3 separate regions of the Homo sapiens genome follow, and all the other regions are linked to region 1. The links come from fine-mapping of genetic effects on gene expression. A gene starts in region 1. Each other region holds a variant in brackets. All regions are shown on one strand. Distances are from middle to middle.

Region 1 (2,756 bases):
ATCCCTCCCTGTCCCCAAATTTCTCTCCCAGTTGCAGTGGAGATCCCCATACCTATTTCACAGTGCTGCCCTCCGAATTTCTTTGGGCAGTTGCACCAGTGAATGTTGGAGAAGTACTTGTTGGACACACATGTTCCTCCATTTAGACAGTCACAGTTCGCTGGAGAGAACAAAGGTGGGGTAAGCGAGGGGGAGTGGAAGTGGTAAGGGGTGGCGCAGCCCTGCAGCAGAGGGCAGGGAGGGGATGTCCCCTGAAGCCTTCCCAACTTGTCTGTGCAGCCAACTGTTGTAGGGGTGGATACTCACATGGAACTTGATGAAGTTCATTGCTGCCCTGGAAGAGATTCGGGAGGAGGCTTCATCAAAGGTCCCATGCTCCAGGGACTCCAGGGTGAGGGTAAACTGGCCCCAATCCCAAAACCCACTCTTCCCTCTCCCTCTCGCCTCACCCTGTTCGTATCTAGTTCTCAAATGGAAGACCATGGGTTTCCAGCCAGGAGAAATGGATTGACCCAAGCAAGCTTCATCTACCAGATGCCCGCAGGCTGGGGCAGTCCCGGCGGCCTCTTCCTCCCTTGCCAGCCAGTGCCAACCCCCGTGGTTCTCAAGCCTCCGCTGCCACCCTGTCCCATTTCCTGGGGAGAGTCTGGCCCTGCTGTGGATGGAATCCGGAGGACCCCAGCTCCCTGAGCAGCCCCTCCTCTCCCCTGGTGCTGATCAGAGGTCCTTGGGCAGCATCAGTCAAAGCAAGAGCGCACTCACTTTGGAGTCGCTCACGACCAGGACGCAGAGAAGCAGGCGCGCCAGCAGGGCTCTCATGGTGGCGAGGTCGGGGCGCTAGACGGCGGCTCTGCAAAGGAAGGAGAAGTCAGGGCAAGAGGCGGAGGAACGGGAAGGCAGGCCAGGCGGGCGACTGCAGCGCAGGGGAGATGCCCGCGGTGACCAGGCTCCCCAGCTGTCTCTCTCCTCTCTGGGCTCCGGACTCCGGGCAGCCTGGATCGGCACCCGCGGGGGACGCCCGGGACGGGGCGCCTTGACTCCGTGCAGCCGCCGGGGAGCCCAGGGAGCCCGGGCAGCCCAGGGCGGGGGAGGCAGACGCTCGGGAGCTGGGGCCGCCGCGCATCCGGCCCGGGGATCTCAGGACCGCGGCACTCACCGGTGGCTGCGGCAGGAGGGCGCGAGCCGGCGCTGCGGGGACAGGTGGACCCTGGCCCGGGCTCCGGGGCTGCGGTCTCCGCACTGTGCTGCGACCCGCGGCGCCTGCTCTATATCAGGGCCCGCCCCGGCGCCGCCCCTCCCTCTCCCGCCCGGCTCCCTCCCCTGTCTTGCAGCGCTCAGCGACCCGGACCCCGCGTGCTTCCGCAACGCTCACAAAGATTTGGGGGAAGCGCGATCTCCAGCGGAGGGGACCCAACAGCGTCTGGACTGAGGAATCGAGAGGCTTGTAAATTCTCCGTGCTTCCTCCCATGCACCTGGCCGGGGGCCTGCCCCAGTGCAAGGAGTCCCCGAATTGCAGAGAGGAGAGAAGGCGCACAGGAGACTCTCTACCTCGCCCAGCTCTGAAGCCTCCTGGGGTCCTCTAATCAGTTCTTCTGCAACTTCTCCCCGCTGGGCCCCAACTTGCCTAAGACTGCCTCAGACCCCCTTGCCCGCAGCTGATGGAGCTGTGAAGTCTTCATCAACGCGACAAATGTACGAGACATACTCTCCCAGAAGCACAGACAGAAAAACCCCTGCCTGTAGGGGCTCCCTCTGTGCGTCTGTTCAGTGGCAGTCCCCAGATATCACCAACACAACCAGTGGATGGAACAAAGCCGGGCTTATTGCTTTCGGCAGTAAGGGGGTTTGTTTGATGGTGCTATCAGAGGGGGAAAGGCAAGGCCAGATTACTGAAAATTTGCAGCTTGGTTTAAAGTCCGTTTTTGACAGGGCTTGATAAGGATTGGGTTAGGTGTCGTGATATGATGTTACAGGATTGTGGGAACAAAGTCCTAGGGCATAAACTGTTGGTGCTTCCTATTGAAGTGTTAACGGGTCTTTTGGGAAGTTTCCATAATGAGCAATTCATTTATTTGTGCAGGCAAGAATAAAAGTAAAGACAATGGAAACATGTAGACAGTTCTAACTGTGGAGGTTCTGGAGGGTGTGGAAGTTCTGTTCTCACCTCTGAGTAGAGGAATTGGGAGACTGGAGGACAAAATAAGAGGAAGATTTATTTTTCACTGTTTGTCCTTTTACACTCTTAACATTTTAAAAAGCACATCTCTGTATAGCCCATTCCAAAAAGATAATTATGCATTTTTTAATGCATGTGTATTTAGTGTTTTACTTCATCATAGAGCCTTGTTTATTCTATTCAGATAGAAACAATTGTTTATCAAATAAAATTGTCCTCCAGAAAAACAGACCATGTGTAAATGACTGCATCCACCCTTCCTGCCTGAGGATAAGCAGACATTTGTGTATACACACACACACACACACGCATCTCTGGGCACACTTGGAGGAACATAGCAGGGATTCTGTGATTCTGTCACCCCCATCTCTTTCCCCTAGTGTCAGGAACCAGGGCTTGGGGTCATTTTGAACCCAGTAGGACTCGCTCTCTTAGTGGGAAGGAGGAGGCTGAGTCCCAGCAATCCACTAGCGGCTTTGGGCCCTTTCCCAGCCTAGGCCTGCAGCATTTTCCTGCCTTGCAAATCTGGACCTTGGGTCTGGGTCCACCTGAGAGTGACAGAAGGAAGGCAGGGAGAGT
Region 2 (2,756 bases), 34 kb after region 1:
GCCAAAGCAGGAGGACAGCCTGAGGCCAGGAGTTCAAGACCAGCCTGGGCAACATAGCAAGACCCTCATTTCTACCAAAAAAAATTTAATTAAGCTCGGTATAGTGGCATGGACCTATAGTCCCAGCCATTCAGGAGGCTGAGGCAGGAGAATGGCTTGAGCCCAGGAGTTAGAGGCTGCAGTAAGTTAGGATCACACCACTGCACCACAGCCTGGGTGACAGAGTGAGACACTGTCTCAAAACAAAACAAATGTTGTATTTGCTTTCTCACTCTTTCCTATCTCCATGATCACATCTTCTCTCCAGTTTTAAATGCCGCACCATTAATAATTCTCTCAGAGTTCCTTGGAGAGAGGTCATGATCTCATCACTCCTAATTCTCCAAAACTAATCATAGAATCTCAGAGTTGGAAAGGACCCAGAAGTCCAATGGGTTCCAAACTTCTTTTTAGTCAGGGACTCTTAACTGCAACCAAATCTTATGTGGAACGTCAATATATATATGTTGACTAGCTGTTGCGGCCTGGCCTCGTAACCCCATGGATTCTGCTTAGAATATGGATTGAAAACCCCTCATGGACGTGAGACTTTGCAGGCTTCAAAGAGAAAGATGGTCCCACCCAGTGGGGTGCCTCTGGTGCTTATCAGGGTACTGATATCTTTGTCATTCCCTGTTCTCTGAGCTCTGAGCACAGCCTGAGTGCTGGTGCTGCCCAGGGGACTGGCTGCAACCAGAGCAACCCAGCCCAAAGACCCCAGGAGGTTGCCATAGACACTGAAGTGGAGGGAGCTGGTGAGCTTGTTATTATTTGTGTGTATCTTCCCTCTAATTGCTGTAGGGTAGCTGGAGGTTGTGTGGGCGCTACAGCAGTGGGGATAGAGGAGGGTGTATGTGCGAGGGTGTGTGTTTGTGTGTGCACACAGAAGTGTCTATAGGCTCCAAACCACCACCGTGGATGCGTCAGAGGCTGCGCTGTTGAGAGAAGTAGTGAGGGAGGAAGGGAAAAGTGAAGTAGAGATACAAAGGAAAAAGGAGGCTGGACAAGGTGGCTCATGCCTGTAATCCTAGCACTTTTGGAGGCCAAGACAGGATGATTGCTTGAGTCTA[C/T]GAGTTTGAGACCAGCCTGGTCAAAATTGTGAGACCTCATCTCTATAAAAAAATGTAAAACTAGCTGAGTGTGGTGGCACATGCCTGTAGTCCTAGCTACTTGGGAGGGTGAAGCTGCAGTGAGCCGTGACAGCACCACTGTACTCCAGCCTGGGGGACAGAGCGAGACCCTGTCTGAGGGGTTAAAAAAAAAAGACGATGGATTGAGTTTTCTTCTAATTGTGTGAATTCTAATTTTCTACTTTATTTGAATGTTTCAAAAAGTAAAAGGCAGTGACAAACCTATGGTAGGGAGTCATATTTGTTGAAAGGCAGCTAGCTCCACTTATATAGTACTATGAGTCACCCCTGAGGCTTCACTCCAATATTTTTCTCATCACTCTTCCTTTTACCTAGAGACACAATGCAAAATGCTTTACGTGGTTACCCCAAAACACCTAGTGTTGAACCCTCCCCTCAGTCGGGATGATGTTCCTCTCACAGCAGGCACATGAGACTGGTCAGGGTTGTAGTCCTGTTTTACATTTGCCCCAGGATACTCCTAGGGGACTCCATGGCAGCCCTCCTCTGTGCTTGTTCTGACCTCTCAGGGTCTCCTCCACTCCACCTTCCATTCATGAATAGAAAGTTTCAAGTATCAGCCTGGAGGTCAGGAAGCAAGTTGCCTTGAGCACTTAGGAAGGGCACATTGATGATCAACTGATATTCAAAGTTGCTTCTGCTTTGGAGATGGATGACAGAAACTCAACACTTACTGGCATCCCCATGTATGCAATCTCATTGCCCTACCCCACACTGGGACTTGGGACCTGGCTCTCACCCAGGTGCTTTGAGATAGGAAGTGGCCTTACTCTCCACTTTACCTCCTGTTGCCCTGGGGAGGGGTAGGGCATGGTGCTCTGGCACTGCTACCCTTTCCCTTGGCCCTCTCTACCCTTCTCCCAAGAGAACTGCTAATGCTTTTCCTTTAGGGCTTCATGCCCTCCCATTCCCTAATCACCCCTACTGGGCAGTCTGGTTCCCAAAGCAGCTCTCAGGGCTGTTGGGTCAGGACAGGAGGGGAGCACTCCTGGAGAGCTCTGCCCCACCCACCCCTCAGGGAGGCAGCTTGGGAGGCTGGGACACCTCTCAGCCCCCTCCTCTGGCAGAGCGAGCCTGCTGGCGAGGGAGACCCGACTCCCAGTGGGCGTCCTGCTGTAATCAAGACTGAGTGGCAGCCTCTGGCTGAGCTCCACCCTGCCCAGTTGGGGCTGGCCTCAGCCTCAGGGGACAGCTGCCCAGGCAGGTCAGGAACCTGCCCAGCCTGTTTGTCCCCCATCAAGACAGTTATGTGCCTCTGTCCCACCAACTTGTGATGGTGGGGACAGGAGAAGGGATGGTATCTCCCTCTGCCATCCCACAAATATTTACTGAGGGTCAGGGGCTGAGTGTACAATGGTGAACAAAAGGTGCAGAGGCCCCGCTTTATTGGAGCCTACAATTCAGCGGGAAGCTAGTTTTTGTATTTTTAGTAGAGACAGGATTTCACCATGTTGGCCAGGCTGGTCTCGAACTCCTGACCTCATGATCCACCCGCCTCAGCCTCCCAAAGTGCTGGGATTACAGGTATGAGCCACCACGCCCGGCCCAGCAAATGTAGTTCTAATT
Region 3 (2,756 bases), 30 kb before region 1:
GACTCAGGGACCTCTGAACCTGCTTCGTGAGCCTAAGGGCTTAGCTTGGCCACGGTTCCCTATTAATAGGCTCTGGGTCATGTACAAAACAAGAGAAAGATGACAGAATCTGGGAAGGCTGCTACCACTAGCGACCTAAGGACTCAAAACTTCACACACAAATATGAAGAACCATATATAAAGAAGTGGCTATGGCTGGGAGTGGTGGCTCACACCTATAATCCCAGCACTTTGGGAGGCTGAGGTGGGTAAATCACTTGAGCCCAGGAGTTCAGGACCAGCCTGGGCAACATGGTGAAACTCCACCTCTGCTAAAAGTAGCAAATATTAGCCAGGCGTGGTGGCACACACCTGTAATCCCAGCTACTCGGGAGGCTGAGGTGGGAGGATCACCTGTGCCCAGGAGGCGGAGGTTGAAGTGAGCCGAGATGGTACCACGGCACTCCAGACTGGGTGACAGAGGAAGACCCTGTCTCAAAAAAGAATTTAAAAAAAAGTGGTCATATATAAAAAGCTGCTTTTTCCAGTTTAAAGTTTCCATTTGCAATACATTGGATGAGAATGGGTGAAGGGGCGCCAGCAAGCTGTGGTGGCATAAACTGCTTGACTCACAGTGACTAAAACCTCTGTCTATTTGAAGTGAGCCTTTGCCAGACCCAAAAGGCTCTATTTTCCAAATCACCTGATACCACCTTTGGTCAAGGCACTAGCCATGGCAGCTGCACTAAGCCACAGGCTCCCATAAGCTATTTTTATCTCAAATACTCACTAGGACCCACTGGGTAACCAGTATGCTCAGGGAAAGGTTTGGGGCCCTGAATCCTACCTTCCACCCCAGAGGGATAAAGACCATGAGGACGGTGAGGAAGCATTTTTATTAAATGGTTGATTGAGGCTCCTGTATGCCCTCAGAACAAGGCTTTTCAGTAAAAGCAGGTCAGAGAATTTGACTTCGGCCAGGAGGTCTTAGCAAGAAATCCTGCTCCCTCTTTCTGAATCAGAGTTCATGACCCCAACCAGCTGCACGGAGGAGGATGGCTGCCCTGCTCAGAGAGGCCAGGCCCTTTATGGTCACCACGTGGAGCCGGGAAGGAGAAGAGAAGAAATAGGGTCATGAATTCCCACCCAGCAATCGGACATTTCCCTCCCTGGGCTCAGCAGTCTTGCCCTCAGACCTGGACTTGCCCCCTTCCTCAGCAGCACTTTCAGAACAATCCCTTAGCCCACAGCGTGGCAATAAACAACCGTGCGGTAAACAGAGCTTGTCTTCTTTGAGTCCCCTTGAGCCCAACGTCTTCGTGCTGCCCACCAGGCCACCCCCACGCAGTGTCTCCTACTCCAGCCAGAGCTCGGGGCACCGCCCCATCCCGGGTCGCCTTTCACCGCCAGCCCAGCAGGGGCC[G/T]CCAGAGCGATGCAGATGAAGCCAGAACCGCGCCCGGGCCGCGGAAGGAAGACTCCCACGGGCCGCCCTCGGTTCTTGACGCTCAGTCCAAGTGCCCAGTGGGGACAGGCGCTCTCAGGCTCCGGTTTGGAGCTCTCCTTACCCTTCTCAGAGGTGAAGACTGAGCCAGACTCCTTCCGTTTTATTTTTATTTTGTATTTTTTGTAGAGACAAAGTCTCACTTTGTTGCCCAGGCTGGTCTCAAACTCCTGGGCTCAAGCAATCTTCCCGCGTCGGCCTCCCAAAGTGCTGGGATTACAGGCGTGAGCCACCGCACCTGGCCCCGTTTTATTATTTTAAAAAATGTTGGCCGGGCGCAGTGGCTCACGCCTGTAATCCCAGCACTTTGGGAGGCCGAGGCGGGCGGATCACGAGGTCAGAAGATCGAGACCATCCTGGCTAACATGGTGAAACCTCGTATCTACTAAAAAATACAAAGAAAATTAGCCGGGCGTGGTGGCGAGCACCTGTAGTTCCAGCTACTCGGGAGGCTGAGGCAGGAGAATGGCGTGAACCCAGAAGGCGGAGCTTGCAGTGAGCCCAGATCTAGCCACTGCACTCCAGCCTGGGCGACAGAGCAAGACTCTGTCTCAAAAAAAAAAAAAATGTTTATTACTTCCCTTTCAAAGCTCTAGATATAGATAGATACAGATTTTTAATGCCAAAACAAAGTTACTGAAAGTGTGGTATATCTCAAATGTGTATACTTAGCAAGTCAAAGCTGTGACCCCCACACCCAAATAAATAAATAAATGAGTAAAAGAAAGCCAGGCATGGTGGCTCACGCCTATAATCTCAGCACTTGGGGAGGCTGAGGCAGGAGGATCACTTGAGTTCGGGGGTTCGAGACCAACCTGGGCAACAAAATGAGACACCATCTCCACAAAAAATACAAAAATTAGCTGGGCATGGTGGCGCATGCCTGTAGTCTCAGCTACTTGGGAGGCTGAGGTGGGAGGATCACTTCAGCCCAGTAGGTCCAGGCTGCAGTGAGTGGTGATGACCCACTGCACTCCAGCCTGGGTGACAAAGCCAGGCCCTATCTCAAAAAAAGAAAAAATGCCCAAAGCTGTATTTTGTATTTTTTGTAGAGAGAAAGTCTCACTTTGTTGCCTAGGCTGGTCTCGAACTCCTGGGCTTAAGCGATCTTCCTGCGTCCGCCTCCCAAATTGCTGGGATTACAGGCGTGAGCCACCGCGCCTGGCCCCGTTTTATTATTTTATTATTTTTTTTATTTATTATTATTTTTAAAAATGTTGGCCGGGTGTGGTGGCACACACACACACACACACACACACACACACACGCAGAGAGA

Alleles and levels. Alleles are on the strand shown, and positions count from the first base shown. SD is a standard deviation of normalised expression in the study named. Not every link is listed here.
For the expression in pancreas of the gene that starts at base 1,243 in region 1, T is the high allele of the variant in region 2 and C is the other (large effect, 0.84 SD a copy in GTEx).

The links. PIP is the estimated chance that this variant, and not a neighbour inherited with it, causes the effect.
Region 2: its variant is fine-mapped to the expression of PLAU in pancreas (GTEx, PIP 0.99).
Region 3: its variant is fine-mapped to the expression of PLAU in whole blood (TOPMed, PIP above 0.99). The same link has a PIP of 0.9 or more in blood mononuclear cells.

The regions. Positions count from the first base shown.
Region 1 is chr10:73,909,619-73,912,374 of GRCh38, reverse strand. It overlaps PLAU (plasminogen activator, urokinase), which reads right to left and starts at 1,243. Exons shown (of 11, transcript NM_002658.6): 1 at 1,157-1,243; 2 at 763-850; 3 at 307-334; 4 at 53-160. The coding sequence starts at 819. It overlaps C10orf55 (chromosome 10 putative open reading frame 55), which reads left to right. Exons shown (of 5, transcript NR_160938.1): 4 at 91-175; 5 at 280-2,406. RefSeq lists a silencer at 697-1,296 and enhancers at 2,262-2,756, 2,568-2,756.
Region 2 is chr10:73,875,876-73,878,631 of GRCh38, reverse strand. No RefSeq gene overlaps it. Among named protein-coding and RNA genes, the nearest start is that of CAMK2G, 2.7 kb to the right of the region's middle. The variant C/T (reference allele first, on the strand shown) is at 1,110.
Region 3 is chr10:73,939,422-73,942,177 of GRCh38, reverse strand. No RefSeq gene overlaps it. Among named protein-coding and RNA genes, the nearest start is that of C10orf55, 18 kb to the right of the region's middle. RefSeq lists an enhancer at 1,314-1,473. The variant G/T (reference allele first, on the strand shown) is at 1,403.